3 separate regions of the Homo sapiens genome follow, and regions 1 and 3 are each reported to be linked to region 2. The links are microRNA targets in miRTarBase. Many come from high-throughput screens and were not tested one by one. Region 2 holds a microRNA gene; each other region holds the end of a gene's coding sequence.
The links. Region 2 holds the annotated microRNA hsa-miR-4524a-3p (UGAGACAGGCUUAUGCUGCUAU, at 4,587-4,608, shown strand). A microRNA usually pairs through its seed, bases 2 to 8, with sites in the 3' UTR of a target mRNA and lowers its output. Matches are read on the target gene's strand: a 7mer-m8 pairs with bases 2 to 8, a 7mer-A1 pairs with bases 2 to 7 and ends in A, and an 8mer does both.

Region 1: the mRNA of EDA2R is a reported target of hsa-miR-4524a-3p. Seed matches in the 3' UTR shown: 7mer-m8 at 6,496-6,502 and 7mer-A1 at 6,375-6,381.
Region 3: the mRNA of MTO1 is a reported target of hsa-miR-4524a-3p. Seed matches in the 3' UTR shown: 8mer at 6,376-6,383, 8mer at 6,222-6,229, 8mer at 4,090-4,097 and 8mer at 1,295-1,302.

The regions. Positions count from the first base shown.
Region 1 is chrX:66,591,182-66,602,122 of GRCh38, forward strand. EDA2R (ectodysplasin A2 receptor) reads right to left here. Exons shown (of 7, transcript NM_021783.5): 6 at 8,293-8,679; 7 at 4,456-6,912. The coding sequence ends at 8,303. Among named protein-coding and RNA genes, the nearest start is that of EDA2R, 42 kb to the right of the region's middle. RefSeq lists a silencer at 10,487-10,586.
Region 2 is chr17:69,093,237-69,104,177 of GRCh38, reverse strand. It overlaps MIR4524A (microRNA 4524a), which reads left to right and starts at 4,546; the gene lies at 4,546-4,614. It overlaps ABCA6 (ATP binding cassette subfamily A member 6), which reads left to right. Exons shown (of 39, transcript NM_080284.3): 21 at 1,210-1,343; 22 at 3,244-3,381; 23 at 6,151-6,258; 24 at 7,377-7,550; 25 at 7,825-7,938. MIR4524B (microRNA 4524b) reads right to left here and starts at 4,636; the gene lies at 4,522-4,636. It also overlaps the pseudogene SEC24AP1. RefSeq lists an enhancer at 236-530.
Region 3 is chr6:73,498,331-73,509,271 of GRCh38, reverse strand. MTO1 (mitochondrial tRNA translation optimization 1) reads right to left here. Exons shown (of 12, transcript NM_012123.4): 12 at 36-8,698. The coding sequence ends at 8,537. Among named protein-coding and RNA genes, the nearest start is that of EEF1A1, 17 kb to the left of the region's middle. RefSeq lists a silencer at 5,519-5,719.

The sequences.
Region 1 (10,941 bases), not on the chromosome of region 2:
TTGATGTAAGCCTGTAGGACTATAAACTTTCTTCTTAGCACCACCTTTGCCATATCCCGGAGGTTTTGATAGGTTGTGTCACTATTGTAGTTAATTTAGAAGAATTTTCTAATTTCCATCTTAATTTTATTCTTGACCCAATGCTCACGCAGGAACAGGTTATTTAATTTCCACGTATTTGCATGGTTTTGAAGGTTCATTTTGGAGTTGATTTCCAGATTTATTTTACTGTGGTCTTAGAGAATGCTTGATATAATTTCAATTTTCTTAAATTTATTGAGGCTCACTTTGTGGCCTATTATATGGTTTATCTTGGAGAAAGTTCCATGCGTTGTTTAATAGAATATGTATTCTGTGGTTGTTGGATGAAATGTTCTGTATATATTTGTTAATTCCATTTGTTCTAAGATGTAGTTTAAATCCATTGTTTCTTTGTTGACTTACTCTCTTGATGACCTGTCTAGTGCTGTCAGTGGAGTACTAAAGTCCCCCACTCTTACTGTGTTGTTGTCTATCTCATTTCTTACGTCTATTAGTAATTGTTTTATAAATTTGGGATCTCCAGTGTTATTTGCATATATGTTTAGAATTGTGATATTTTCCTATTTGATGAGGGCTTTTATCATTTTATAATGTTCCTCTTTGTCTTTTTAACTGCTTTTGCTTTAAAGTTTGTTTCGTATGATATAAGAATAGCTACTCCTGCTTGCTTTTGGCAGCAGATAGTTGGTTAGTGAATTCTTATCCACTCTGCAATTCTGTACCTTTTAAGTAGAGCATTTAAGCTATTTACATTTAATGTTAGTACTGAGATATGAGGTACCATTCTATTCATCAGGCTATTTGTTGCCTCTATACCTTGGTTTTTTGTTTGTTTTGGTTTTTTAAATTGTATTTTTGTTTCATAGGTCCTGTTAAATTCATGCTTTAAAAAAGTTATGCTTTGATGTGTTTCCAGGATTTGCTTCAATATTTACAGCTGTTTTTAGCAGTTCTTGTAGTGCTGGCTTGGTAGTGGCAAATTCTCTCAGCATTTGTTTGTCTGAAAAAGTCTGTATCTGTCCTTCATTTATGAATCTTATTTTCACAGGATACAAAATTATTGGCAGATAATTGTTTTGCTTTAGGAGACTGAAGATAGGGCCTTAATCCTTTTTAGCTAGTAGGGTTTCTGCTGAGAAATATACTGTTAATCCGATAGCTTTTCCTTTATAGGTTACCTGGTGTTTTTGTCTCACAGCTCTTAAGATTCTTACCTTCTTCTTAACTTTAGATTACCTGATGACAGTGTGTCTAGTTGATGATCTTTTGGTGATGAATTTCCCAGGTGTTATTTGTGCTTCTTGTATTTGGATGTCTAGGTCTCTAGCAAGGCTGGTGAAGTTTTCCTCAATTATTCCTCCAAATAAGCTTTTCAAACTTTTAGATTTCTCTTCTTCCTCAGAAATGCCAATTATTCTTAGATTTAGTCATTTCACATAATCCCAGACTTCTTAGAGGCTTTGTTCATATTTTCTTATATATTTTTTGTCTTTGTTGGATTGGGTTAATTCAAAGACCTTGTCTTGGAGCTCTGAATTTCTTTTTTCTACTTGTTTGATTCTATTGCTGAGACTTTCTTGAGCATTTTGCATTTTTATAAGTGCAATAACTGATTTTATATAACTGATTTTATAATAACTGATTTTATAATAACTGATGATATTTTGACACTAGTATGTGATTTTGGAAACTCCTAGGGAGACTGTCTGATGTAGTTTTCCAAGCTGAACACTATGAGGGACTCAAGGGGATAAACATCCTCTTTTTTGAGGCCTGTCTTAAGGAGGCATCTGTGGTGTAGTGGACAGTGCTGGGCCTCAGAGTCACAGTCTTGGGCTGAAATTCAGCATATCACTTGCTGCTGTATATTCACAGAAAAATTATTAAACCTTTGTGAACTTTAGTTTCTTCTTTTGTTAAATAAAGATTGTAAAAAATGCCTACCACCTAGGAATATCATGAGTATTAAATAAGACAAAGTATGGAAGTAAAAAAGCACACCAGCAATAATCACTAAATATTAGTTTTTCATCCACCTTCTCTTTCACTGCACTACTCCTTAGAAAGGAGGTCTTAAGGAAGGTAATTTGCTCTCACTAGAAACCACAAGGAAGAAAGGCTTTGTAGAAGATAACCATGTGACTGCACAGCTGCCCTCAGTGGGGATCCATTTTATCTGGACAGGCAGCAGGTGAACCCCTAACACTCATGTGTACACAATTTCTGAGGACTTAAAAGCCTAACTGCTGGGTACATAGAAACTTGCCAATCACACTGTGAGCATAAAATGCAGTAGCATCATACCAGCCCAGAAATATGCAAGTGATTTTAGTCCCTAATGAAAAGGTTATTAACAATCACCTAAGAATCTTGTCTGACAGTTTGATGACTTGTTTGCTGCTTTGATCCATCTATTCCCAGAGATCTGGTTCCCCATGTCCTTCTGGGGTATACAGTGGGGGCTCACTGCCCTTTGACTGACACAGGCACACACAAATCAACTCCAAAACAGAGAAGTGTTGCCTAAATGCTAACCCTTCCTATGCCTTTATCATCATCCATAAATCAGAGGATTCTGTTTCCCCCACTGTACCACCATTCATAATTTTATCAAGTGAGAATGCAAGGCCCAGTTAGGATTTAAAAAATGCCTTTTCTCAAATAGAGGCATGATAAATACACAAGTTCTGGCCTCTTACCTCCTGGTAATTCCAGTCACTTCTCCCCCATTCTGTAGTGGTTCCCTCAATAAGCCCTTCTACAGCCTGTGATAGTTATTTCCCAATATATCTTTTCCTATGCACACCCCTAAGCCTTAGTGGTTTCCTCCGTCCTTTCTCCTTTGGTATGAGTGATACCTCCTAAATCGTCCTCCTCTAAGTTCTGCCTAGATGTTTTCTCTCCCTCTTTTCTCTAGGCTACATAGGGTCTAGAGAGACTAAAAAGAAGAGAACGGAAAAGGACTCAAGTTCTGTCTCTTTCTTTTGCTCTGAACTGAGCAATTAAGTTGTGAGTGTGTGTGTGTGTGTGTGTGTGTGTGTGTGTGAGAGAGAGAGAGAGATTGGTTATGGAATCAGCCCTAGTAATGAACATTTTTAAGAAAGTAAATTAGTAAACCAATAGCAGTCTACTCAGAGATCAGAGATCAGTAATCATAGAATATTTTTAAAACAGCTTTATTGAGGAATATTCTAAATATTATAAAATTCATTCATAATTTCATGTATACAAGTCAATGATTTTTATTAACTTTATTGAGTGGGGAAGACATCAGCATAACTAAATCTTAGAACATCTTTATCCTTTAAATAAGATCCATCATGCCTATTAACATTTAATTGTTTTTCTCATGCCCATTCCAAGGCAACCATTAATCTACATTCTGTCTTGATTAGCATGCTTTTTATGGATATTTTATATAGATGGAATCATACAATATGTGGTCTCTTGTATCTGACTTATTTTACTTGACATGATTTAAGGTTCATCTACAATGTATTATGTGTCAGAAGTTCAATATTGTTTATTACTGAATAGTATTCTATTATATGTATATACCACAACTTTTTATCTGTTCATCAGTTGATGGACATTTGGGTTGTTTCCACTTTTCGGATATTATAAATAATGTTTCTATATTTGTATACAAGTATTGTGTGTACATATGTTTTTAATTATATTGAGTATATATCTAGGAGTGATATTACTGGATCATACTCAAGTTTAGCTTTTAGAGAAACTGTCAGACTGTTTTGAAAAGAGGCTATACCATTTTATAATTCTACCAGCAATACATGAGGCTTCTCATTTCTCCACATCCTTGCCAACATGTATTGTTGTAAAGATTACAGAATATTAAAGATGGAAGGAAACTTGATTTTCCTATCTCTTAAATTAAATTATAGTAAAGTATAGCATTCAAAATTAAATAGTTTCTCTTTAGGTGGTCTCTTTAACCTGGTAAGATTATCAACACAAATACAGACCTTGAAATGGCAAGGCAGTACTCTTAACAGGTCTAGCTAGAATATGCTTGTATTTTAAGACATTATGATCAAAATGAAAACACACACACACACTGAAATTCCTAAAGATTTTGCAGACCTCAGAAGATGTGCAGTGCACGGTTCCCTTAGGACCATGGAACCCTGTTTGATAAGTATTAGTTTAGAACACAACAATTTCTAGTAGATCCTTATCTCAGAGGAGAATATAAATGGCATAAACAATTTTAGAAAAAGAAAGAGAGCTTGAACTATAACCCAGATCTCCTGTGTGACAAGTCAGTGAATCCCATCACTACTGATGCCATGTCCAATGATCAGAAACACATTTTTTTGCTGTGCTCACTAAGAAAAGACACATGAGCAAAATGATTCACCAGGTTCTCTGAAAGTAGAGGAATAAACAAGGTTTTTGGATATATTTCTGTTTATTGGCCAATATGAAATGTTTGCAGAGCATCATAAACAAACATAGCCCTGCCAGTATCTACACATGCATATGGCTCAAGAGTTAACAAAATTTCTATAAATAACCCATTTATGAGAAAAAATAATTAAAATGTACCAATATTCAATGTAAAACACTGAAGACCTAGCTAGTAGGGTGGGGTTGGTAGAGAGGAGTGGGACAGGAGGGATTATGATCTCAATGTGACAGGGCTGTATGTTGTAGAGGGGTATGCTGTAGTGCTGAATCCTTTCCTAACCTGGATCTGAGAATCTTGGAGGAAAAAATTATTTTCCCAGGCTCCCTCCTGTCAAAATCCAAGTCAAGGTATATGGAGAGAAAAACAGTAATCCAAAAAAAAAAAAATTCATTCTCAGGAAATACCTCCCCTTCCTTACAAACAAAAACTACATTTTTTTTTTTTGCTAGTTCATTTAGAGACAACTTAACTGCTGTTTAGGCTCAATGTATGTTGAAAATGTTTTTATCAAGTGTACTTTGTTCTTCCACTGACCAATAACCCCTTTGTAGAAAGACACATAAAAGCACAGTGCTCAAAGAAATATGCCTCAGCATTGAAAAGTAAAACTGTAAAAAGAACTCTCCTGAAGCAAATACTCAACTATGGTATTTGCCATGGCCAAACAGAAATTATAAAGACGAAAATCCTTCACTTCACCTTTACCCGAAATACTTTAAAATGCAAAGCCAATTGCCACCTCCAATTGCTGAACCTCAAAAAGTTGGAATTAAGGTGATTCTGGGTATGGCTTGGGCTGTCCACATAGCATTCATGCCATGAGCAAGCACACTGAAGAAGTCTTACTCTTTCACTTTATCATATTTTTGTTATTATTATTATTATTACTGTGTTACCATCATTATCTTTCCTCTAGAGCAGCAGTGTCAAATGTGGGCTTGAACCACTGCCAGCCACATGGCAACCTTTGAACACCTGCAGCCTGCTGAAGCCAAATCATCCCCTGTCTGGATATTATTTCTTCTACCAGAAGGTCTAAACATGATCAGTGAAAGCCAGTGAGATAAGAATAACCTGTTGCAGAAAAACAAAAACAAAAACAAAAACAAAAAAAAAACAGGAAACCTAAAGGCCAAGGCCTAAAACCTTGGTTACCACATATTTGCTAATACCTGTGTGGGGCCAGGCTGCTTGCTTGGTACAGGCTTGTATTTCAATTGCTTCTAATCCTCAGTCCAGTACAATGGGACCTTTTTGCTTTTTCCCAAGTCCTTTTAGTAATCTGATCAATTGGTTGCCCCAGGGGCCCTTAATCAGTGTTTGTAGATGGATGAACCCAAAAGATGTAGTTAATAAAATTCTAAAAGCAAAAATCTTGCTGTAGACAGCACTCCTTTGCCAGAGCTAGAACCTGGTGATGAAGTGCACATTCTGCCTAATGTACTTAATAAACCACTTAATAGTTGTGGGACAGGAACTAGCTGTACAAGTTTCAGACAGATTCTTGGAGAATAAAGAATACAACCTCTAAGGAACTTGTTTTTCTCTGAGCATGAGATGTATAGGTGGGAGCTAAAGGCAAAAAGACAATTGAGAAAGAATCAAAGGGGAACGGTGGTGAGAAAGCTGGGATTGAATTGACATTTCAATAGAAAGAGGCATACTCAGATGTCCCTACATGGATTGAGGGCTGTCTTTGAGGGACTGCTGTGGGGTAGTTTGGGGAACTCAGGCCCCAGAAGGAAGATTACTTTGGCTCAGAAATGTTCTGTAAGGTTCCAAAATGGCGAACTTCAGCCCTTCTCCCTGCTGAGGGTGGTGAGAACCTCAAATACAGGGTGAGGCCCCAGGGATCTAGAGGGAAAGTGTTTGCCCTGCCTCATGCTGCAATGCAGCAGTCTGAGACATGAACTTGGGAATTATGGCACGAGGCCTCCCCCAAGATAGATATTAATGTGTGTGTGTGTGTTTGTGTGTCTATGTATATGTGTGTGTATGTGTGTGTGTGTGTGTTGAGGAGGGAGACAGTGTGGAGGAGCTAAAAGGGGAGAAGGGTTTGATTTTGTCCCTAAAGTGCTAGGTAGATGTGCCAACACAATTTTGAGAGGCTTACCTGACCAAAAATGCAGACATGAAAACCCTACCCCATTCACTGTCCTCTCTCCTCTTCTCTATAATCAAGTTGAGCTAGGAACATGTCTGGTAGTCCCATGAATGTGGAATCTGGCTCCCCAGACTACAAAAGGGAAGCAAGAAATGCTCCAGATCAGTCCTTGTGAAATGGAGAATCAATCCTCTGGTGGGATGGGATAGGATATGCCCCATCTGTAGGGTATTAGCTCTTGTGGACATCACATTTCAGGCCCCTGCTGCTGTTGTGGTATAGGAACAGAGTCCAGAGAGAACAACTGGGCAAGGCTGCCAGGGGCCCAAGAGACCTAAGGAGAGAGCAAACCAAGTTAGAAACATGTGGGGAAATCTCACTAGCACCCTTCTTTCTCTACCCCTCCAAATATCATAGGTTAAGCCAATGGTTGAGGATGTAATAGCAGAAAGACATTACCTAGATAGGGATATGACAATTCTACCCTATTCTACATTGTTGAAACCATTTATCCTGAAGATAGGTTTAGTTCTAAGCTCCACATACTTTAGAAGAACCTAAAGTGGTATTCTCCAGAGAGGTGGTGTTGTCTTCAAGCCTCTGCAGGGCTATCTTAAAGCAGAGGAAACTGATGAGGTCTGTCTGGCACGAGGAACAGAGCCAGGATGGATAGGCGGGTACTACAGGGAAAGCTCTTTCTTACATTGAGCTCAAACCCACCAGTCACAATTGTGTATACTGTAATATACATTGAGAAGTAGTCAGCCCTCTGCCACCTAAAGTATGTGAGCAAGGACTACACAAACTCTTAGTGGGGATATTATAAAATGGACCCAAACCTTGGAAGAAGAACTGGACTAGATAACCTTGAAGGTACCTAAGTTGATTGATTTGACATCAGTTATAACTTTCAAATTTGATATCAGTTATGACTTTCAAATATACATTTGTTCACGTTTTCTTAGGTTGGATGCAGGGAGCAGGGAAGTCATTGGGAGAACTGAAAATGTATTAACTGAAGAAATACGGAAGTGGGCACTGCAAGATATTTGGTTAGTTGAAAACTGGGAATCTACCTACTCTCCTACCTCATGCTACATAAGCTTTGAGAAAGTAACATTGGCTATCAAATGGTTGCAATGGTGGAGTTGAACCAACTCTAAAATGTAGCCCCCAAACCTGGGTTCTTGCACAGTTCTAGCCCACTAATTTGCCCTGTGACTTTGAGAAACTAACTTTCCCTCTCTGTGTCTCAGTTCCTGCCTCTGTAAAATGTAAAATGAAGTGACATACACACAAGGTTTGTATAGTTATTAGGGAATGAAGGTTGATTTGAAATGTAGGGTTTCCAGATGACAAGGCTTGTATATCTTTTTCTACTGTGCTATGCTGCTTGCACACATAAAGGGAGATACCTGAATATGACCATTAGATAGTGGGGCCCTGAGAGAGCTTACGAAAGACCAGAATGGAGAGACTGGTATCATGACAACCTTGCCAGTTCCCTGACAATTGTAGACCCAGAAGTGTGATATCTGTCTGGCTTAAAAGTTTAGCATCACCACTGTTGCCCCTCCACCCAAAGTGTTCCTAGCTTGCTGCTGTTCCTCCACTCCTAGTGAATAATACTATTCCAAAAGAGAATTCCTTGAGGTTAGTCCTTAATTTCTGTTTTGCTTTTTTTGTTTTTTTCTGATCCACCTTTCCAGCTCACCTCATTAGAGTTAAGGGCTGGGAACTTCAAAGGGCACATTGAGCTCCAGCCTGTCTCCAGTGCTTTCGACTGTGTTTCCCCCCAAGGTCTCAGCTCCAGTATAGGAGGCAGAGCTGGAAAACTTTTGCAGGTCCAGCTCTGTGCATTCGATGGGGCTGTGGACCCAGTGGGAGTGGCTCTCTGAGGTGCAGGAGGCCATGGTAAAGGACTCCTGTGTGGGGAAGCCACTAGTCGAGCTGCAGTCGTCCTCGAGGATAGGGTTAAGTGGCTGGGTCTGAAAGATGTTCTCACTCACTTGGGACTCAGCACTGGTCTCCTTGCTGGGTGGCACGGGGAAGAGAGATTCCTCCTTTGCTGTTTTATCAGCCTCAAACTGCAGCAAACCTCCTGCAACTCGAAGCAGAAAGCCACTGGGTTACCCAAAAGCAGGGGCTCTTCTCAGCTGGGCACTGGGTACTGAGTACAAGACAGGTAAAGGTCTGGGAGCTGATTCTTTCCTTCCTCTCCCTGGGGTCTAGAGCACCTAGCACCAGGCTGAGGTGACACAGTTGAGAAACATACTTACATTCAGGTATCAGATTGAGGCTAGCTGGTACTGGATCAGAGAAAATAATCAATTTCTCTAGAGAAAAAGAAACCTTTGTGGGAAACAGGATTTTGATACCATCTCCCTTGCCATAATCTTCATGGCCTGGTCTTATGTCTATGTACATTAAGTTACATGGCAAACTAGACTCTGCAGATGGAATTAAAGTTATGGATTTCAAAATAAGGAGAGAATCCTGGATTACTCTATGGGTCCAATGTAATCCTGTGTCCCTAAAAGCAGAAGAGGAAGGCAGAGGAGACAGAGAGTATCAGAGAGATGTGGCATGAGAAGAACTCAACTCATCATTGCTAGTTTTGAAAATAGAAGGGGGCCATGAGCCAAAGAATGTAAGTGGTCCTAGAGGCTAGGAATGACCTTCAGCTTACAGCCAGCAAGGAAATGGGACCTAAGTCCTTTAACTGCATAGACCTGAATTCTGCCACTTTTGTGCATGATCAAGCAGATTCTCTCCCAGAGACTCCAGAAAGAAACACAGCCCTGCCAATATCTTAATTTTGGCATTGTGAGACTCTAAGCAGAGACAAAATTGAGCCTACTGAACTTCTGAGCTATGGAAACTGTGATAATAAGCTACTAAATGTGTGGCAATTTGTTATGGCCATGATAGAAAAGTAATACCCCCTTCATGCATGGATCTGGTTCAACATCAGGTCACAAACTGAGAACCTATGGGATTTGTGTTTGTCCTCTTTGCTTTGGTTGTGATTTTGCTCTTTATTCAAATTCATTGACTATGGTTAACACAACTTCATTAAAAAAAATCCAGATTTCTGAATTCTCTTGAAAATGTAGAAGATCTTGCAACATTAAATATTTCCATATGGTTACAAACAGCTGGATCCAAGTAGTGGGATTCCCCTTTAGATAAGGGATGTGCTCTGTAGTTTGCCACAGTTGCACTTTTCTCTCTTGCAACCTTACACTGGATTTAATTCGCACATACATCTCACCCCAGTATGTGTGTAAGTCAGTGACTCCTGAAAAACAGTTTTCCAAAGTAAGAAAATGTCTAGCCTTCCTAGCCCTTATAAAAACAGTGAGGAAACTGCCTGCCCTCATATTCCAAGCAGGTTACCACATTATTATCTTCAGGATAGAAGGAGAGCAGAAAAGGGTTACCCATCTCTCTTCTTCTGAGGCAGCTCTCTGATATTTTCTCATTTTCATCTTCTGGACCCTGGAGTCCAAATGCTTCATTGCTCATGTTTCATGTCCATGCACCCAGGGCCTAAGCAACAACTCTTATCTGGGACACTGGCCTCCAAAGTCAGAGACAGGAAGGTCTACCTTGAGTCACAGTGTCCCAGGAGCTAGCAAGAAGTAGACTTTGAGAAAAATCATAAAGGAACAACAGTGTTCCCCGTGTATCCTGCAGCCCATGAAATGCTATATTCATCTCCAATTAAGCCAGGGCACAACCAAACATACCTCTTGGGCTTTTCAAGATCATCTGCTAGGCCCCAGAGCCAAACTGACCCAAGGCAAATTTACATTAGCAGGATCTTCCCACACAAATACTGCAGCTTTGCACACAGTATCCAGTGGGCTGAAAAGGAGTCCTGAGCACTCTTTTATCTAGTAAACTTTATCTTCCCCCTTATAAATCAACTTCATTCTCTGATCTGAGTTCCTGTTTCAGTGTCCCTGCCTAACTCTCAGTTCCCTTAATGGCAATGAAGCTGCACTGAACCTTGGTACTCTTGGCTGGAGTTCTAACTCTTTGCCTGGTCCTGATCAGCCACATTCCCACCTCCCCCATCTTTGTCCTCAGTGAGCTGGCTTTTCTGTCCCACATTCTTGTCTAGTAGCTGAAGTTGTGCTTAATAGAGATCACAATGTTACTGTGACTTTAAATATGATTTTCCATCTGGAATTTTGCATGGCTGTCTGATATGGACTGGGCTAGACCTCTTGACATCAGTATTATCTGAGGGAGAAAGTCCAGGTTTGCCAACTACTCTGGACATAGGGCTTTCAGTTATCCCCATTTGTGAAGTTATTATACTGATAGCAGTGGCCTTAGACCTCAACCACTTTTA
Region 2 (10,941 bases):
CCAATTATTGGTAACACGTTTATCTTTTAATGTGAGCATCCCTGTCTGCCTAGGTGAATGTGGGTCACCATATGGCATTGCACCTCAAGTGACTGTGGAGGTGGAGTGGGGTGTGTGGCTGCTCAAGGTGCATGGAAAGCTTATTTTCTATGTGCATGTTCCTGTATCACTTGGTTGGGGGATCCTAATTCATCTAAGGTTTGGCCTTATTTTTCCAATCCCAGAGCCCACTATAAACTCCCATTTCAAAGGCAAAAAAAAAAAAAGTCCTTCTTTTCCTCTTATTCATTCCATCTTGCTCAAATTATTGTCTGCAGTTACTTCAGGTTTGCCCAGCTGTGCTCCTCAGATAAGGTCTCTCAGTAAGTAAATATGGGACTGTTACCCTGGGGACAACTGCGGCTACTGTGTGTTCTGTGTGGAACGTGGGGAGGGGCCTGACGGGTCATCTTTTCCCAGGTATACGTCACGACCCTGACTATAGCTTCAGAGCATACCTTACCCCCTTGCATTCATCCACTCTGAGTTCAGGTATCCTGGAAATTGGTTTTACCTTCAGCTGCTTGCTCTGGTGTGCTCTAGGCTGTGAATTTTTCTCAGCTCGTATTTCACGGTCAGACGTTCTCATCTGCTTTCTTCTTCAGGGTCATATCTAAAAGTTTGATCTGATGATGGCATCCTTTTTCATTTCCTAAGAAAGATTATATTTATACAACATACATGTATGGAATATGTACGTAAATGTTTAGAATAAAGTAAAACATATGTATGTGTTATACAGACACATATATATTTACTTGTCCATTATTTGGAAGAACAAGGAAGAGAGAAGAGTGTTATCATTGGCTGTTTTAGGCTGGACAATCTGAAGTACTCCTCATAAAATTATTGTATCTCCACAGATTATTCAATTCAAATGTTGTTGTTGTTGTTGTTTACCAAAAGTCATACAATAGAATTAGCTTATTTTTATGATTACATGTTAATTTGCATTAAACAGATTTATAAAGCTAATTCATTGTGGTATAAGATTTGCTAAATAGAAGATGGTACAGTGTGGGTCAATATTATTATTGTGATACCCAAAGAAAGACATTTATACATAGTATTCCATAAATATTAACTTTAATTATGTATATGACTTATTTTAAAAGTTTGATATGTATTTTCTTACTTTTCTATGGCCTTCTCTTATTAACTTCATATTAGAATCAAATATTGAAGATTTTATAAAATCACTGAAGCATCAAAATATACTTTTGGAAGTAGATGACTTTGAAAACAGAAATGGTACTGATGGCCTCTCATACAATGGAGCTATCATAGTTTCTGGTAAACAAAAGGTATGTTTGCCTTTTTGCTTTTATGAAAAAAACAAAAAGTACTACATTTTAGCTGTTTTAAAACTGCAGAAATTAAAGCTAGTATACAGAAACTTGACTCAGAAAAACATTCTGGGTTGTTATTTAATAAACTGTGAAGTTTACCTAAGTTTTTGTAAAACATTTTCTATCTTAGTTTTGTTTTGAATTAGATAACTTTTACATTTGAAAGGATCTAAATTTAATTGTACTGTTTAAACTCAATAAAAATATTATAGCTTATAATTATCAACCAATATAATTATGGATTTAAGGAATTTTATTCAGTAGCTAACTACCTGAATAAAGTTTGTTTTTATATATTGAGAAAATACATTAAATACTATAATATCTACACGAAATAACTGAGAAAAAAGTATTCTCAGTCTGCTACCTTAGCATATGTCGATTTGGGTAAAAGAGTCAAGCCATAGAGATTCATTAGAGAACAAGACTATTGAAAATACTTTTTTTGAGGCAGAGTCTTGCTGTGTTACCCAGGCTGGAGCTCAGTGGCAGTATCTTGGTTCACTACACCTCTGCCTCCCATGTTCCAGTGACTCCTGCCTCAGCCTCCAGAGTAGCTGGAATTACAAGCAGGCACCACCATGCCCAGCTAATTTTTGAATATTTGGTAGAGAGTGGGTTTCATCATGTTGGCCAGGCTGGTCTGGAACTCCTGACCTTGGGTGATCCTCCCGCCTTGGCCTCCCAAAATGCTGGGATTACAGGCATAAGCTACCGTGCTCGGTTTAAAAATACATCTTAATGTTAAGAACTCTTCAGTCTTATTTGCATTCTAATAAAAGCAAGGGGCCTAATTAAGTGAAGCTCCCTCTTTATTTCATGCTACAAAGTAAATTTTTAAAAAAGAAAAGCCTTTGAAGTTGTATTACTGAATTCCGTTCTACATAAACTAAATATGCTATAAAAAATGTAATCGCTTTGTGCCAGTTTTGGGAAATTACTTTGTCAGCTACTACGTTACATACCTCACATATTTACTACATGAACTAGTGGTAAGATTTAAACAATAAACCTTCTAATAGATTAATGAACATTTTCCTAAACATGAAGTACATAAATATAAAGATTGCTTTAGGAAGTGGGGAAATGCTTCTTTGGCAGGGTAAGGATGAATATTTAATGAACTCCATGCTTATCTCCTATCCAGAAGGCCAGCATTCCTTTGCTGCTGCTGCTGCTTTTTTTTTTTTTTTTGAGACAGAGTCTCGCTCTGTCACCCAGGCTGGAGTGCAGTGGTGTGATCGCAGCTCACTACAACCTCTGCCTTCTGAGTTTAAGTGATTCTTCTGCCTCAGCCTTCCAAGTAGCTGGGATTACAGATGTGTGCCACCACACCTGGCTAATTTTTGTATTTTTTAGTAAACATAGGGTTTTGCTATGTTGGCCAGGCTAGTCTCAAACTCCTAACCTCAAGTGATCTGCCCGCCTTGGCCTCCCAAAGTGCTAGAATTACAGGTGTGAGCCACCATGCCCAATCTTCCTTTGCTTCTTCATCATAAACTGACAGCATCTCCTTGTCAGGGAGACTTTTAAACTCTACTAAATGAAATTTCCCCATCAGCAAAATGGAGACAAAATTATCTAAAATTAGTAATACAAATAAAAATTCATATTGATTGTATGCTGACTCTGTGCTAGAGCTTAATGTACATGAATAGAGTGTCATTTAAGCCCTATAACAACCCATTTAGTATTTCCTTTTCATAGATGAGGAAGGTAAAGCTCAGAAAGTTTAGTTCACTTGAAGATGGACACACAACAAGCATGTGGCACTGTTAGGATCTTTTATACATAAACCTTGCCTTTGTTCTTTAAGAATTTAGCATTAACATTATTTATTTGTTTCTGTTTTAAGGATTATAGATTTTCAGTTGTGTGTAATACCAAGAGATTGCACTGTTTTCCAATTCTTATGAATATTATCAGCAATGGGCTACTTCAAATGTTTAATCACACACAACATATTCGAATTGAGTCAAGCCCATTTCCTCTTGTAAGTATTGGATTTACTGAGTCTAAACAATTAAGAATTGGACAAATAGCCTATGTTTTCTCTCTTTAGCTTTTAAATATCCATAAGTGATTGTTAAGCCTGAAAATTATTATTTTATCCTAATATTTTCAATGGGTTATAGCAAACAAAACAGGATTTTTTTTTCCTGCCAAGTTATCAGATAATTATCGTGAGGGAATACTTTTCAATATTTTGTCAGTCTTCTAGGCAATGTTTTGAAAAGTTGTACATACTTGATTGTGGAAGTGTATGAGAAAGAGAAACAGAAAAAAGAAAACACTGACTTGGAAATCAGGAGAACTTGTAACCCTGGTTACATATAAATCTATTATAATTAGTTAGTGGACCCTCCATTGACTAAATGTGTAGTAGACAGACTAATATGAAGGAGAATCTGCCAGTTCTGGGGCTATCTGTTGATTTATTTATTCACCTACTCATAGTTGCTCTATGTTGTGAGGGAGCCTAATACACACAGGCTGCATTGGATTCTGTGTCAGTTGGCTATAGTCTGGCTTCAGACAGTTTGGACACTAGAAAGCAGTGGTGGGAGACAGAAGAGCAGAGGACCCCCTACATTGGGCTCCAGTCACATCACCTCCTTCTGCTGTTCCTGAAGCCCAGAAGCAACAATAGCTTGCTTCTCACTTCACCATCTTTGTGGGATGCTCATCACCCACCTAACCATGTCATAAGGAATTGCACTCTAAGAACTTAACGTAGTCATGGTTTTCTGGTTAGACCCTGCCTGATACCAACAGGGGTGTCTCAAAGCTGACTCCAACTGTTTCACACCAGAAGTCTGAAACATCAAGAAGCAGGATTAGAAATGAAGCCATCCAAAGGGAAGTCCATTTTGTGACAAAAGTGTGAAGCTCAGTTTTGGCTTCACTGAATCAGTGGTGCTGGGAGTATATGCAAGCACAGGTTTTCTGTAAGCCATGGGAACAATGGGGATGAAATATACAGTACTTGAGATGTTCGTGACAGACACATACCTCCGTGAGTTGAGTATGACCGACTGATCACGTAAACAGGTCTGCTGCACAGGATGACTCGAGGGAAGGGGTGTCTGAAGGGAATTCTCCAGAAAGTGGAACCAGAGGAGTAGCAGAAAGAGACAGTGATTACCCTTCCTCTTTGGAACGATAGCAGCATGAACCTGTCTCACTGCAGAATTATTTTGAGACAGGCTTATGCTGCTATCCTTCAAAAGAACACATCCACCCAGCTACTGAGGTTTCCATCTCTGGGTTTGCTCAGAAAGACATGCTGCTCAGGCCTGAATTATGTGTTCATCAAAGGTCCTAACTTCTGAATTATTAGCTTCCTAATGCCATTGTGTTTGCTCAGGATCAAAATGGACTGAAGCCCATAGCTACTCTATTAGAAACCTGTTCCCCACTCCCACTTCCCCATGGCACACACCTTTCCTCCCTCATTCCTATGATGAAAAACAGAATTTATAGACATAGCCCTCAAAGTCTTAAATAAAGTTAAATAATTGTGGAATTATTTTGAGACAGGCTCATGCTGTTATCCTGTAATTATATCCATGAGGTGGTCCTAGATGCTGCTAGAGTGTCCACTTGGCCTAGCCTCAAGTGGATGCTGATTTGGGGGTAGTGATTTAAAGTTCCTTTCCCTGAAGTTAAGACAAGCAGCAACAAGTTTTCTTCTTGGTTCTGTGCTTCAGAACACATCCACCCAGCTACTGAGGTTTCCATCTCTGGGTTTGCTCAGAAAGACGTGCTACTCAGGCCTGAATTATATGTTCATCAGAGGTCCTAACTTCTGAATTATTGTTTTTTTGTTGTGGTAATAATACATGATATAAAATTGACCATTTTAGCTGTTTGCAAGTGTACAGTTGAGTAGTATTAAGTATATTCACATTGTTGTGAAATGCATCTCCAGAACTTTGCCGTCTTGCGGAATTGAAACTCGATGCCAATTAGCTTTCCCCCTCCCCCATCCCCTGGAAATAACCATCCTATTATGTTTCTATGAATATTACTAGTTTAGAAACCTTATATAAGTGGAATATTTGTCTTTTTGTAACTGGTTTATTTCACTTAGCATATTTTCCAGGTTCGTCTATGTTGTAGCATGTGACAGGATTTCCTTCTTTTTTTTTTTTTTTTTTTTTTGAGACCGAGTTTTGTTCTTGTTGCTCAGGCTGCAGTGCAATGGGGCGATCTCTGCTCACTGCAACCTCTGCCTCCCAGATTCAAGCGATTCTCCTGCCTCAGCCTCCCAAGTTGCTGGGATTACAGACATTTACCACCACACCTGGCTGATTTTGTATTTTTAGTAGAGATGGGGTTTCACCATGTTGGTCAGGCTGGTTCAGACTCCTGACCTCAAGTGATCCTTTTTAAGGTTGAATAGTATCCATTGTTTGTATATACATACACATTTTGTTAATCCATTAATTTGGACTTTTGGGTTGCTTCCACTTGTGAGTATTGTTGGTATGAATATGAATGTGAGGGTATCTCTTCGAGAGCTTGCTTTCAATTCTTTTGGAAATATCCCCAGAAGTAGGTCCTAAATGACTTTTGACTTCTCTTTGTTCTTTGAGTTGAAGATCAGAGTCACTTTCCCTCCCACCTTCGTGCCTAGATGGTAATGAGCTACACCTTTACTTTGATTTTTCAACATTTCAAAAAGTGCATTTTTGTGGCTATAATTATTTGTTTCATTTAACAAATATTCACTAGTTTAAGCTACCCTTTATATTTTCAGAGCCACATAGGACTCTGGACTGGGTTGCCGGATGGTTCCTTTTTCTTATTTTTGGTTCTATGTAGCATTTCTCCTTATATCACCATGGGCAGCATCAGTGATTACAAGGTAAGAAAAAGCAGGGAAAAGAAGAAATTTCAGGAATTTCAATATCTGTATTTTGAATGCTATGTGTTCAAAATGTTTTCTTCTGACAAAAACATTTGAATGTATGTTTAATTTAGATATTGTAGCTAAACCTTATTCTTGGCAAGTCAGATAATTTACTTCTAAAAACTCAAAATGCTTTTTATTCCAAAGTCACCTGAAAAGTACAGTGATTTTTCAGAGACTCCAATTAGTCTAAACCTTCAAAGGGAAATATTATAAATCTTTTGACCACATTATTTCCCAGCCACAAGAAGGAAATCATTGATGTTGAAATCAAAGGCCAAATTTAAGACTTGAATTCCTTTTCCACTCTGGAAATTGCAATTTTATGTTATATTTGTATTCGATTATGCCCATTATTCAGACAAAGCAGTTAAATCTATCAACGTTCACCATCCTGAGCCAGAAACTCTCCAAGATGTTTAGGTAAAGGTAAATGTATTATGTCCTCCAGGTCACAAAATAATACTTTTTTTTTTTTTTTTTTGAGATGGAGTCTCACTCTGTTGCCCAGGCTGGAGTGCAATGGTGCAAAATCGGTTCACTGCAAACTCCGCCTCCCGGGTTCAAGCAGTTCTTCTGCCTCAGCCTCCTGAGTAGATGGGATTACAGGCTTGCACCACCATGCCCAACTACTTTTTGTGTTTTTAGTCAAAATGGGCTTTCACCATGTTAGCCAGGATGGCCTCAATCCCCTGACCTTGTGATCCACCCGCCTTGGCCTCCCAAAGTGCTGGGATTACAGGCGTGAGCCACCATGCTGGCCAATACTTATTTTTATAGAGTTTAATGCCTTGAACATTATGAGGTCCACTTTTCATTATTCATGAGCTAAAGTTGTGTTATGAGTCAGGCCTATCACAGTATACATTTTATTTTTGATAGACACCTTGTAAACCATGGAACTGGCTCTATAAGCCTCATGTTACTAAGCAGTATATGCATAATTTTTTTTAATATTAGAAGATTAGATTATATTTATCTTAAAAATTCTTCCAATGTGTTTGTGTTTATTTTAGATTTGCATTTTAATTGAATCTATATACATTTCTTTCTTTCTTTTTTTTTTTAATCAGAAAAATGCTAAGTCCCAGCTATGGATTTCAGGCCTCTACACTTCTGCTTACTGGTGTGGGCAGGCACTAGTGGACGTCAGCTTCTTCATTTTAATTCTCCTTTTAATGTATTTAATTTTCTACATAGAAAACATGCAGTACCTTCTTATTACAAGCCAAATTGTGTTTGCTTTGGTAAGTAACACAGTACATAAACCAAATTTCATAAAGTAATTAATAATAAATTTTAACATTGTTATTTTAAGTAGTTAAGATGTTTTAATTCATATTTTGTAATAAACCAAAACAAAAAACATGCAAAGTGCATGTATGATAAATACTAATAGTTTCAGATACCAAAGATGTTTTATACTTATGCCAGGTTACTTGTTTTTTAAAAGTTGTAATCTAATTTTTCCCTCAGTAATATTTGATTTTTTGACTATGTTATTATTTCTTTTATGCTCAGGTTATAGTTACTCCTGGTTATGCAGCTTCTCTTGTCTTCTTCATATATATGATATCATTTATTTTTCGCAAAAGGAGAAAAAACAGTGGCCTTTGGTCATTTTACTTCTTTTTTGTAAGTATATAATACATACAAATAGAGAAATAGTGTTATTTTTTAAACTTCTAATGTAATCTTAAATACAGATGTCTGCCTTAAGACAGTAGGGAAAATTAATACTTCAAAATTACACCATAGAAAAGAGAGGGAAGTGTAACACTGTTACTGAATCAATAATATTTCTAAAGAAATCAGGTGCTACCCATTGAACAGAATTTATGGAGAATCTTACAGAAGACCTGACGTCTGAAACGTCCTGTTGAGTTTATGTCTCCAGAATACAGGGCTTCCTGCCAACACTAGAAAATTGGCTTCCTAACAGTTGACATTACAACCCATCTCTACAGTCTTCAAGAAGGTCTCTCTTAACCTTAGCTGCTAATAGTTTCAGATACTAAAGATGTTTTATACTTATGCCAGGTTACTTGTTAGTATAAAAGTAAAGAGCTTGTCCAAAATCATGGAAAACTTTGCTGGAAATGTTTGCTGAAATTCTAGAGACACCAGAGTGCCCTGAGTCCTACACTTCAGGCCTCCTTTAACTGATATCCTCAACTGGTGATTGAATGTCTGTCTGGAAAACAGCTCTCAACTCTTGGAATGGGAATCTTGAATCCATGAGAAGAACCCAACCAAAGATCATCTATAAGAAATGATATATTTAATATTAGGTTGGTGCAAGAGCAATTGCGTTTTTTTTGCTATTTAAAGTAATGTCAAAACCGCAATTACTTTTGCACCAACCTATACGACCCACTGACTTCTACAAGAAATTAGTCTGGGACTCTTTTGGCCAGCAGGTAGCTGTTGTTCCTTCTCAGTGGACAGCACTTGGGTTTGACTTCTCTGGGCTATATTTCTTTGTATTCAGCAAACAGTGTCTATAACTATATCTCTTACCACCATCAGCACAATCCAGTGGAAGTACAGAGGCTACAGAAAGAACATTAGGCTCACCTTACTCGGAAAAACTGGCTTTGAGGCAGCCATGAGGATCTGGTGCACAAAAGGTCTTTCCATTTATCCTTTCCATGGAGACTATTTTTTGTTCAGTCAACAGACTTACTGCCATTGTCCAGTGTAATCTCAGGTGCTAGATCAGATGTCTGTAGAAGAGAGTCTTACTGACACTTGGTTGGTTTCTTTTCAGTCAGCACTCTTGTATCTGTCTAGCAAAGGTGAACAAAGAATTCACATTCATTCTTAGTGTTTGCCAGTAGTTTTAGCTCTGAACGAAGTCTACCTTGGAGGTGATAGCCAAGAAATGTCAGGGTTATTGTCCAGCGTGGTTGCGCATGGGTCTGCTCCTGCCAGCCTGAGTGATGCTGCAGATGCCCTAGTGAGTGCCCCTCATAGATGCTTTTTCAGCAGCTTGTCCTTCAGTCCTAAGTAAACAGCATGCTGGAATCAAGCTTCCTTTTGTGGCTTTTGCCACTCCTTGTGTTGACCCTTATTACACAGAAATCATTCCAAACTGGAACAAATGCACATCTAGATGGACACATTTTTTGCTATGTGCCTCATGAAATAGTTGCCCCTGGCTTACCGTATACTCACAACTTATCCCAGTTTGTATAGAGCTGGAAATTTCTCAGACAAGAGAGCATTCAGCATCAGTGATAGAAACATACCTCAGCCCTTGCCTTTTAGCTTTTAGTGGAGAAGCTGAGCAGGTTTAATTTCCTCATGGCTGCAGGCTCCATAGTGATGCTTTGGGTTGGAAAACATTATAGACAAGATTTTCTCAGCCAAGTTCCAGGATTTCAAATCTGTGCATCAATTCCATAGACTGTGACAGAACTTCTAGAACTTAATAGGCCAGAATCTTCCAAAACAATAAGTTTCATCTCTAGGCTTAGAGAGCAGAAACCATTTTCCCATTGTGGAGTAAGGAGTGAGAGTCCAGTGAGAGGAACTTTCCTTCAAAAAATGGCAGAAGACAGAATCTGCATTATCATATTATGAATGCCCCTTGTATATACGGCAGCAAGTGAATAGATGAACAAAAGAAGAAATTTGACTTTGTTCTTTCTAAGGAAAGATGATAATGCAGAACCACTTCTTAGGCTTGTGAACTAACATGGTGATTAAGGTGTTCTCACTGTGATTTGAAAAAATTATCACAAATAAAAGATCACAGCAGAAAATCAGACATGACACTGAGAAACACTGTATTTTTAAAATCAAAACACATACACGTATGATTGCATGCCTTTTATCCTTTGCTGCCATTTATGCTTAAGTTGTTATGGATTCAAATAAGGCAAGACAATATTCCAGAGGCAAGGTACGTTTTGGAAAACAAAGACTGTTCAAAATATAAAAACAAAATTACACCGCAGTGTAATAGTAAAATATGTATTTATATATTTGTAATTTCTGATTGTTTTTCCTTTGCCCTTCTTATGCTTATCTATTTCAGTATATTTATTTATTTCATTTTTCTATCACTGAAAGGAATCTACATATTTCTAGAATGGTGGAATGTCAGACTTGAAAGAAATTCAAAATTGTCTAGTATGATTTACCAAATTTTATAGTGTTGCAGGAAATTAAGGAACTAGAGAGACCGATCGGGATACAGGAGAGCTTTTATTTTAGGTGTATATCGGCTCAGCAGACATGTGTCCTGAAAGTCTGAGCCCCTAACAAAGAAAGCGAGCAACTTTTAAGCATTTTGGGGCGGGAAAAACTTGAAGCAGGAAGCAGGTTTGCAGAAGTGAGAACAAAGGCTGTTTATCATTTATGCCATGACTTGCATCTTAGGAAAAATATGAGTTGCAATTTAACTTTCACTTACTTATCTTGTGACCTTGCAGCTGCACAGCAAGAAAAACAGGGACTTACAGAACTTACAGAATATGTGGGAAGTAGATATGGTTAATGTTTCTTGGGACAGTTAGTATTCTCTTTTAACTTTAACTTCGGCGGAGGTGGGGGTGCGCAACTTAAATTCTTTTCAGCCTTGGTTAATACAGCAATTCATTCTATGAGCTATTGTTATTTTTCTGTTACTAT
Region 3 (10,941 bases), not on the chromosome of region 2:
GGGTTATTGCTCGTATAAAGCGAAATAGACTTAAGTCAAAAGTAAGCAGTTTCATTTATTCCAGTGAAAAAAGCGTATAGAAGATTGTGTGGTTTTCAGAGGTTAAATACCAGATGGCTAATACCAAATGAAAAACATAAATAAAACTTGGTTATATTTTCAGTACAATCATGTGATTGAGGGAATATCCTAGTTGGTGTTGGGATAAACCAAGTTACCATGTAAGCAATTTGAGTTTGACTTCTAGTGCTGTCTGGAGGCATGCAAACTGAGGAACTGGTTCTCAGCCTTCTGGTGAGGGCATCTGCAACATTTTCTGAGGCCTGGATTGTAACCATATGGGTATAACAGTGCAGCTATATTGGTGCAACAAAAGAAGAACCTCGTGGAGCATTGACCTACAGTCCCCATCTTTAGCCATTATCATACCTTCTTGATTGACTCTTTGGACTTCCCTGTTGAGCCTCTTGCAGGATTCTATATATAACTAGCAACCCAGTAAACATCTGATGAGAAATGAGGTGATTTTTATTCATTTATGGTTGGGTACAAAGAATGTTTTCTCATAGCTATCTTTATGTTGAAGTTAGGGATGCATTTCTTAGAACTCAATTTCTCATTTTGTATAACTGCTCATCAGTATTTTTCTTCAGAGCTATAATACCTCTGAATTTTCAGTTAAACTGCCCTCCTTGAGGTTGTTTCTTGTGAAACTGGAAATACAGAAAATTCCAACAGTTTTCTTAAATTACTTGAAACACCACATACACATAGCACAGTCTGGTCTTGTGTCAAAATACAGTATATTCTAGAAGTGTTTCCTTTTAAATTTAGCCAGTGTTTTTTTTTATGTATCTTAATTTACTGTTATAAATTTGGATTGCCCATGTTTTAAAAGGATGTAGACCAACTCTAAAAGAGAATTCTAAAAGCAACCAACATAATTAAAGACTAAAAATGACTTAATTACAAGCCACTGGACTAAAAAATAGTTGTTTAGCCTAGCAAATTCTAAGAAATTATTATTGTCTTCAGATATAGGAGGAATATTTTAAGTCTGCAGAGGGTGCTGTTCAAGTGAAATTCACACTCTGAATTCCCCTACAGCCTCCAAATTCTGGGATAACCTTTGAAATAGAGTGAGTGCCATAATGGCTAATTAAGCATGGCACCTCCATAAATGCTTAACCTGAAATAGGTTACAAAGGATTGGAATGGGAACTGAAGGTTAAGAGAAACAGACTTCCAGATTGTTCAAAAGGGATGGAGAATTTTTTTTTTTTTTTTTTTTTTTTGAGACAGAGTCTCGCTTTGTCGCCCAGGCTAGAGTGCAGTGGCGCGATCTCGGCTCATTGCAAGCTCCGCCTCCTGGCTTCACGCCATTCTCCTGCCTCAGCCTCCCGAGTAGCTGGGACTACAGGCGCGCACCACCACACCCGGCTAATTTTTCGTATTTTTAGTAGACACGGGGTTTCACCATGTTAGCCAGGATGGTCTCTATTTCCTGACCTCGTGATCCGCCCGCCTTGGCCTCCCAAAGTGTTGGGATTACAGGCGTGAGCCACCGCACCCTGCCGGGATGGAGAAACTTTTAATCCAGTAGAGGACCTCTGGTCCCTAGGAGGGAAAAATCCACTGAAAGTGGCAGAAAGGTGTTGTGAAGTCAGAAGACCTGAGATCTATGCTCAACAGCAACTTGAAGTTAGACTTTAATTACATCACCTCGCAAGGCTAAGTTATATCTATAAAATTGGAGCATAGGAAGAGATCAGTAAGACTTTAAGTTTTTAAAAACTTTTTAGAAAAATTCTTACTCTGAGGAATACACAGATCCTAACCTGTTGGGGTTTTCCTGTCAGAAAGTAGTGCTGTTCAAACAGATTGTGTTTTTTCAAACTTTTGACTGTGATCCACAATAAGAAACATTTTCATTTATTTTTTAGAGACTGGGTCTTGCTCTGTTGCCTAGGCTGGAGTACAGTGGTATAATCAGAGCTCACTGCAGCCTTGAACTCCTGGGCTCAAGTGATCCTCCCACTTTGGCCTTCCAAAGTGCTGGGATTACAGGTGTGAACCACCATACCTGGCCTGAAATACATTTTATATTGCAGCACAATACAAACACACACACTGTATTTCATTGCATCTAAGATGTTTTTCAGTCACAAATGCTGCCAGTTATAACTGTCAGATGCCATTAATTGTAAGACATACTCCAACTTAGAGATACTAAAATATGGAAAGATGTGCATCTTAAAATTGGTGAATATAGACCGAGCGCGGTGGCGCACGCCTGTAATCCCAGAGGTCATCCACCCACTTTGGGAAGCCAAGGTGGGTGGATCACCTGAGGTCAGGAGTTCAAGACTAGCCTGGCCAACATGGTGAAACTCTGTCTCTACTAAAAATACAAAAATTAGCCGGGTGTGGTGGCACAAGCCTGTAATCCCAGCTACTCAGGAGGCTGAGGCAAGAGAATCGCTTGAACCCGGGAGGCAGAGTTTGCAGTGACCTGATGTTGCGCCATTGCACTCCAGCCTGGGCAACAAGAGCGAAACTCCATCTCAAAAAAAAAAAAAAAAAAAAAAAGTGATAAAACACTGTATTAGTTCATTTTCATGCTGCTGATAAAGACATACCTGAAACTTTAATTGGAACTTTAAGTCCAATTAAACCTCTTTTCGTCCCCAAAGTTCCACATGGCTGAGGAAGCCTCAGAATCTTGGCGGGAGGCGAAAGGCACTTCTTACATGGGAGTGGCAAGAGAAAATGAGGAAGAAGCAAAATCGGAAACCCCTGATAAACCCATCAGATCTTGTGAGACTTATTCACTATCACAAGAAAGCATGGTAAAAACCGGCCCTTGTGATTCAATTACCTCCCTGTGGGTCCCTCCCACAACATGTGGGAATTCTGAGAGATACAGTTCAAGTTGAGATTTGGGTGGGGACACAGCCAAACCATATCAAACAAAGAACATAAAAATTTCCATCTTGGCTGTGCACGGTGGCTCATGCCTGTAATCCCAGCACTTTGAGAGGCTGAGGGAGGTGGATCACGAGGTCAGGAGATCGAGACCATCTGGCTAACATGGTGAAACCCTGTCTCCACTAAAAATAGAAAAAATTAGCTGAGCATGGTGGCACGCGCCTGTAGTCTCAGCTGCTCGGGAGGCTGAGGCAAGAGAATCACTTTAACCCAGCAGGAGGAGGTTGCAGTGAGCCGAGATAGTGCCACTGCACTCTAGCCTGAGTGACAGAGCGAGACTCCGTCTCAAGAAAAAAAAAAGAAAAAGAAAAATTCCATCGTAACCATTTGTAAATGAACAGTTCATTGGCATTTAAAATATTCAAATTGTTGTGCAACCATCACCATCAACCATCTCCAGAACTCTTTTCATCTTGCAAAACTTGAAATTCTGGACTGGGCATGGTGGCTCACCCCTGTAATCCCAGCACTTTGGGAGGTCGAGGTGGGCGGATCATGAGGTCAGGAGTTCGAGACTAGCTTGGCCAACCTGTGAAACCCTGTCTCTATTAAAAATACAAAAATTAGCTGGGCATGATGGCAGGCGCCTGTAATCCCAGACTCAGGAGACTGAGGCAGAAGAATCATTTGAACCTAGGAGGCAGAGGTTGCAGTGAACCAAGATCACACCATTGCACTCCAGCCTGGGTGACAGTGTGAGGCTCCATCTCAAAAACAAAAACAAAAACAAAACAAAAAAACTGAAATTCTGTACTCACTAAAGAATAGTTTCCTGTTTCTCCCTCCCCCATCCCCTGGTAACCATCATTTTACTGTCTCTATGAATTTGAGTGCTCCAGGTAACTCTTATAAAGGGAATCATACAGTATTTGTCTTTTTGTGACTGGCTGATTTCAGTTAGCATAACTTTTTCAAGGTTTATCCATGCTGTAGCATGTATATGAATTTCCTTCCTTTTTAAGGCTGTATAATATTCCATTGTATGTATATGCCACATTTTGTTTATCCTTTCATTCATTGGTGGATACTTGGGCTACTTCCAGCTTTTGGCTATTGTGAATTAATGCTACTTTGAACATGACTGTACAAATTTTTTTTTTTTGAGACAGTCTTGCTCTGTTGCCCAGGCTGGAGTGCAGTGGCTTGATCTCAGCTCATTGCAACTTCCATCTCCCAGGTTCAAGCGATTCTTGTGCCTCAGCCACCTGAGTAGCTCGGATTACAGGCGCATGCCACCACGCCCAGCTAATTTTTGTATTTTAATAAGAGATGGGGTTTCAACATGTTGGTCAGGCTGGTCTCAAACTCCTATCCTCAAGTGATCTGCTTGCGCTGGCAGATTTGTAATCCCAAAATGCTGGGATTACAGATGTGAGCCACCACACCTGGGCTTTTTTTCAGGCAGGGTCTCACTCTGTTGCCCAGGCTGGAGTGTGGTGGCATGCTATCAACTCACTGCAGCCTCAAACTCCCCGGCTCAAGTGATTCTCCTGCCTCAGCCCCCAAGTTGCTGGAACAACAGGTACGTGCCACCATGCTTGGCTTATTTTTGTATTTTTGGTAAAGACGGAGTTTCGCCATGTTGCCCAGGCTGGTCTTGAACTGCTGAGCTCAAGTGATCCGCCTGGCCTCCCAAAGTGCTGGGATTACAGGCGTAAGCCACCGTGCCTGGCCTGTCACAAATATTTTGATCTCATTTAATTATTCACTTGAGTTTTAGTAATACCATTTCTTGCCTTTAGTAGTATTCATTAATCTATTTAAAAAGCACGAGTATCTACAACTGTGATATTGCTTATATTTACAAGGCTTATATCTTCTTAAGGTAGACAGATATTAACATTAAGGTAGGGCCAGGCACATGGTGGCTCATGCCTGTACTATCACCTACACAGGAGGCTGAAGAGGGAGGATTAATTGAGCCCAGGACTTTGAGACCAGCCTGGGCAACATAGTAAGACCCCATATCTACAAAAACTTAAAAATTAGCCGTGCATGGTGGTGCACACCTGTAGTCCCAGCTACTTGGAGGGCTGAGATGGGAGAATAGCTAGAGCCAGGGAGGTTGAGGCTGCAGTGAGCTGTAATCATGCCACTGCACTCCAGCCAGGGTGGCAGAGTGAGATCTTGTCTCTAAATAAAAACATTAAGGTAGAACGAAGTAAGTGTAATAATAGAAGTATTGTGGAGAGGGAGTGTAAGAGGAACAATTAATTTTCACTGTGTGCATTCCAGTGTTAAGTGGCTCTTCCAGATCAGAATAAACCCCTAGTCTCTGCTGGTGGCTTTCCTGATACTCCTGACCACTTCTTCTGGACAGGGCATTCTTCTAGGAGTTGAAATTTCTGAAGTAGAAAAGCCATGGCTATTCCAATCTAGGTTGAAACTAAAAAATGACAAAATACTTTTAAAACCATCAGTAACAAAATTTAAGCTCTTGGCTATAAAGGAACTTCATTTTCAAGGCCATAATCGTTTAATTTAGCATAGGTTCGTATCTTCATCCTTCCTCCCCCAGTAATTTTACAAATGCTTAGTGTTTCTTAGTCATTTCTTATTTTTTGGTGTTCCTGTTGAATTGAATTGAAAAAATACCTGGCTTTTTCAACTGGTAGGCAGTCTGGTCTGTGGTGAATAGAGGAAGTCACAAGTATGGCCAGCTTTCGTTGGCAGCTGATTATTGTCAGTGATGGGATTTCTATGAAGTAACTACATTGAGTAAGGTTACATTTTTAGCTGATTTCTTCCTAGGGCATCATATTCTGTAGTACTTCTGCATAGCAGCACCAGAGGGTAGGCTGTTTTGACATATTAAGTGATGTAATTTTGTTTAAGTTAACATACAAACATTGTGGATTTAAAGAGGTTTCAGGCCACGTGTGGTGGCTCATGCCTGTAATCTGAGCACTTTGGGAGGCCAAGGCAAGAGGATCATTTGAGGCCAGAAGTTCAAGACCAGCCTGGGCAACATAGTGAGACTTCATTCCTACAAAAAATTTTTTTAAAACTTAGCCAGGCATGGTGGCATGTGCCTGTAGTCCCAGCCACTTGGGAGGCTGAGGCATAAGGATCACTTGAGCCCAGGAGATCAAGGCTGCAGTGAGCTATGATTGTACCACTGCACTACAGCCTGGGCAACAGAGTGAGACCCTGTCTCTAAAAAATAAAGAAGTTCACATCCTAAAGCAAATCATAGAATCTAAAATATGTATTTTCCATGAAACATTTTTCAGTGAGACAGTTACTATTGTAATGGAATAGCATTACAAACCTTCATTACTAAGAAACTTTAAAGTTTCTTTATATGTGTATAGTGTCACTAGCCCCAAATTGTAGCTGTCAAGAACCTCCCAAAATATTTGAACTTCCTGTTTCTTTTTTTTTTTTTGAGACAGAGTCTCACTCTGTTGCCAGGCTGGAGTGCAGTGGCATGATCTTGGCTCACTGCAACCTCTGCCTCCTGAGTTCAAGTGATTCTCTTGCCTCAGCCTCCTGAGTAGTTGGGACTACAGGCACGTGCCAACACACCTAGCTAATTTTTGTATTTTTAGTAGAGATGGGGTTTCACCATGTTGGGCAGGATGGTCTCGATCTCCTGACCTCGTGATCCACCTGCCTCAGCCTCCCAAAGTGCTGGGATTACAGGCGTGAGCCACTGTGCCAGGTTACTTCCCGTTTCTTTAAGATAAATTTTTGTTATATTCTATTCAAAAGGCACTCCATTCACTTTTTTTACTCTTGTATTTAATCAGAAAAAAAAGTTTAGAAACAATGAATTTCATTATTTTGCTGAACGGGTAGCACAAAAACACAAAATACCTTCTTTTCTTTTTCTTTTTTTTGAAACAGTCTCACTCTGTCGCCCAGGCTGGAGTGCAGTGGCACAATCTCAGCTCACTGCAACCTCTGCCTCCTGGGTTCAAGCGATTCTCCTGCCTCAGCCTCCTGAGTAGCTGGGACTACAGGCTTGCTCCACCACGCCTGGCTAATTTTGGTATTTTTAGTGGAGATGGGGTTTTGCCATGTTGGCCAGGCTGGTCTTGAACTCCTGACTTCAGGTTATCCACCCGCCTCAGCCTCCCAAAGTGCTGGGATTACAGGCGTGAGCTGCTGCAACCAGCCTCTTTTCAAAATATATACACAATGTGGTATTGTAATTAATATTGTCTCTGTAAGAAGAATTTTGCCCAGGAGTAGCTATGACTAAAAGTTACGACCTTTTGAAATCACTGAATCAAGTATTAAAAAATATTCATCATTCCTAAATTATCCAGCACTACAAATACTTTTTACTTGCTACTAATCTTACTGCTTTCTGGAAAGACTAAAATTAGATAAAATAAACCCAAGAAAACTAAGCTACCTCCAAGTGGCCATATGCAATTATAGTAACAAGATACTTGGTTGCCTCACACCCATAATCAGGCTTAACATACACATCTGTAGCCAAAGTGACTTTGGGGCCCTTAGAACTCTCCTGAGTACCTGCTTTGGCCCGAAGGTGACACGGGAGCTTCTCCCTAGGCTGACACCAGAGATCTGGGTTGGAATTCCAGAGACAAGCAGGGCTGTCTGGCCCATTTGGCTGTATTCATCCCTTAGTCTATTTAGAATGGTTGAGGTATCTGAGGTATCTGAGTCAAAAGGCCCAGCTGATTATCCCACTCTAACCCCTGTGAAGACATACCATTGAAGTACTGGAGAGGAAGAGGGGTACTACCACTATTCTGTTTTTTCTGTCATTCTGACTTAAAAACAGGGAAACACCACTCACCAGTTACTATGGACCTGTCTTCATTATTAAGAAATGATGGCCATGACAATTTCTTAAGAAAATATTTTTATGGTATGATATAAAATAACTAACGTTACTCAATTCTCCCATAACTAGGTCACCAAATAAGTATCCATCCACACTGTGGATAATAGGAAACAATGGTGATTTCCAATCTTTCTATTTTATAGGGCTTTCATTAATGTTCAAAACAATTACCAGTGAGGATTTCCTGAAGAAGTACAGATTTCTGTCAACTTTCACCCTACATACTATATTCCAATAGTATTAGCTGAATGATTCTGGATAATTTTATATAATCTCAAGTCTTTAGTCTTGAGAATTTAAGGGCTTTGATATTGCTTCCTAGCCTAGTATAACCAAGCAAAAGATTATTAACTCTCAAAACACGCTGAATGATAAGACTTTTAATTTGGTAGACTTAATAGGCAAAGTCCCTATGAGTAGGCAAATCTGCATGTTGAGTTTTATTCCAGGTTCAGTTTTAGGTTCACTGTCTCTCTCTTTGATGAACACTGCACAAAGTTATTTGTATTACAGCTCCTTAAAGAAAGAGTACAAATTGTTTACGACTAGTTTTTTCATATACACGAAAAAGCACAATTATAATTTCTGTCCCACTCAGAAATTAATGGCAAACCCATAGTAACCTAATAAAGCTATTTTAACATGTGCTAAATAATTCTTTTATCTATACTGTTGTATTGATCAAATTATTTATATGCTCTTTAAAAATCTTTTATGAATTGAAAGCTATAACTCTCTCTCTTGAAGTCTGTCTGCATCACATAAGTATTGATCAGTCTTGGATGATTCATTCATAGCCGACTGTCTTCGTTGAGTGGTCTTCACAAATCTCAGCAGATTGATGATGGCGGCAGGTGTTACTCCGGGTATGCGACTAGCAGCCCCGATCTAAAAATCAATACCACAAGAGAAACTAAGTGAGCTATGCTATGTCAAATCAAATCTATTTTCCTCCAAATAACAATCTGTATAGTATAGTTTATACAATATTTTCTTAATTATTATTTTGATGTATTATCTTAACATATTTCCTTGTAAAGTAGATAAAGGAAATATTATTATTTATGTCTTCATTTTACAAATGGGAAACTGAGGCACAGAAATGTTAAAATAGCTTGTGCAAGATTACATAACTAATAGATGTTAGAGTATCTACTTTTTTGTCCCATTAAACTAAGAAAAACTGTAATCAAGTTCCTTTCTTCAAATACAGGTCCACAGTCCCTTATTTGAAATTCTTGAGGCCAGCCTGGGAAAAATAGTGGGACTCTGTCTCTACAGAAAATAAACAAAAATTAGCTTAGGATGGTGGTGCACACTTGTAGTACTAGCCTCTCAGAAAACAAAGGTGGGAGGATCACTTGAGCCTGGGAGGTCGAGAATGCAGTGAGCTGTGATTATGCCACTGCACTCCAGCCTGGGTGACAGAGTAAGCCCCTCTCTCAAAAAAATAAAATGAAATGAAATCCTTGAAGCCATATGTTTTTGTAATAAGATATATCTAATCCTTGAGGCGGTACCTAATGTAACAGCCTCAGCAGTGTGTGGGGCAGCGCCCCACATTTTTAATCCTATTAATATTTCTGCAGTGTATTTTTACAGTGAAATGTATGAATATTCACTCTGAACAGTATAAAGACCATATAGCCTCTTCTGAGCTGAGCTCAGTTTTGCTACCAAATGAGCTTGTGGCAAACTTCTGCCAGAGCCTTTTGTATTATAGAATTGTGGGCAAGGAGTTCTGAACTCCTATGACCAGTGCTGTCCAACTGAACTTTCTATGATGATGGAAATCTTCTATAACATGTGCACTGCAATAATGCAGTGTCCAATATGGTAGCCACTAGTCATATGTGGCTACTGGGCACTTGAAATGTGGCTAGTAAGACTGAGGAACTGAATTTTACATTTTATTTAATTTTTTTCTTTTTTTTTTTTTTGAGACAGGGTTTCACTCTGTCACCCAGGCTGGGATGTAGTGGTATAATCATGACTTGCTGCAGCCTCTACCTCCTGGGCTCAAGCGATCCTCCCACCTCAGCCTCCCAAGTAGCTGGGACTATAGGTGCATGCCACTGCACCTGGCCTATTTAATTTTAATTAATGTAAATAACCACAATTGGCGAGTGGCTATCATGTTGGACAGTGTGGCAGTGTAGCCTATGATTATCCATACAAACATAACCTGAAATCAATAGGAAGGGACAAAGTCATAAAATTTAAGGCTTATTTTCCTGGTTTCCATGATGACTGTTGCTAAGAATACCATCTTATATTAATGAAATTACTCCTCCCTGTAAAAATAGTTTTTTTCAAATTTTTCTACAGTCTATATTTTTGTAATATGCCCCTTTATTTTATGAAACACTACTAAAAAAAAAATGTCCATTAAACTGTGACACACCATCAATTTTTGAGATAGTAAAGATGCAACTGGCCAGGCACGGTGGCTCACGCCTGTAATCCCAGGACTTTGGGAGGCCAAGGCGGGCAGATCATGAGGTCAGGAGATCGAGACCATCCCAGCCAACATGGTGAAACCCCGTCTCTGCTAAAAGTACAAAAAAAAATTAGCTGAGTGTGGTGGCATGCGCCTGTAGTCCCAGCTACTTGGGAGGCTGAGGTAGGGGAATCGCTTGAACCCAGGAGGCAGAGGTTGCAGTGAGCCGAGATCGTTCCACTGCACTCCAGCCTGGTGACAGAGTGAGACTCCATTTCAAAAAAAAAAAAGATGCAATTTTAGAGATGTTAAAATGTGGAGAAAAGTGTATTTCAGAATCAGTAAGTACAGTTTATCAGTCTTTAAACATTTATTAGAAGCCCAATACTAATTACTATATAGTAAATTAAAAGTTTATTTGTTTACACAAAGGAACATGCATATACCCTCTCACAATTAGTCTGAAGCACGTGGTGGGGGCATTTTTTGGCTCCCCTCTTTCTCCCATTAGTTCCCAAGGCAACACTATGGAACTCCTAGGGAGGACTCCAAGTAGTGACTTGAAAATCACAAATATGAGTTATGTTTTAATCTAGTATGGTTTCCTTTAAGCCATACACGTGTACTATCTTGCATAGTTTGCTCTGATGCTTTATCACATGGTTGGGACTAGAGAATAGTTCCAATCAAA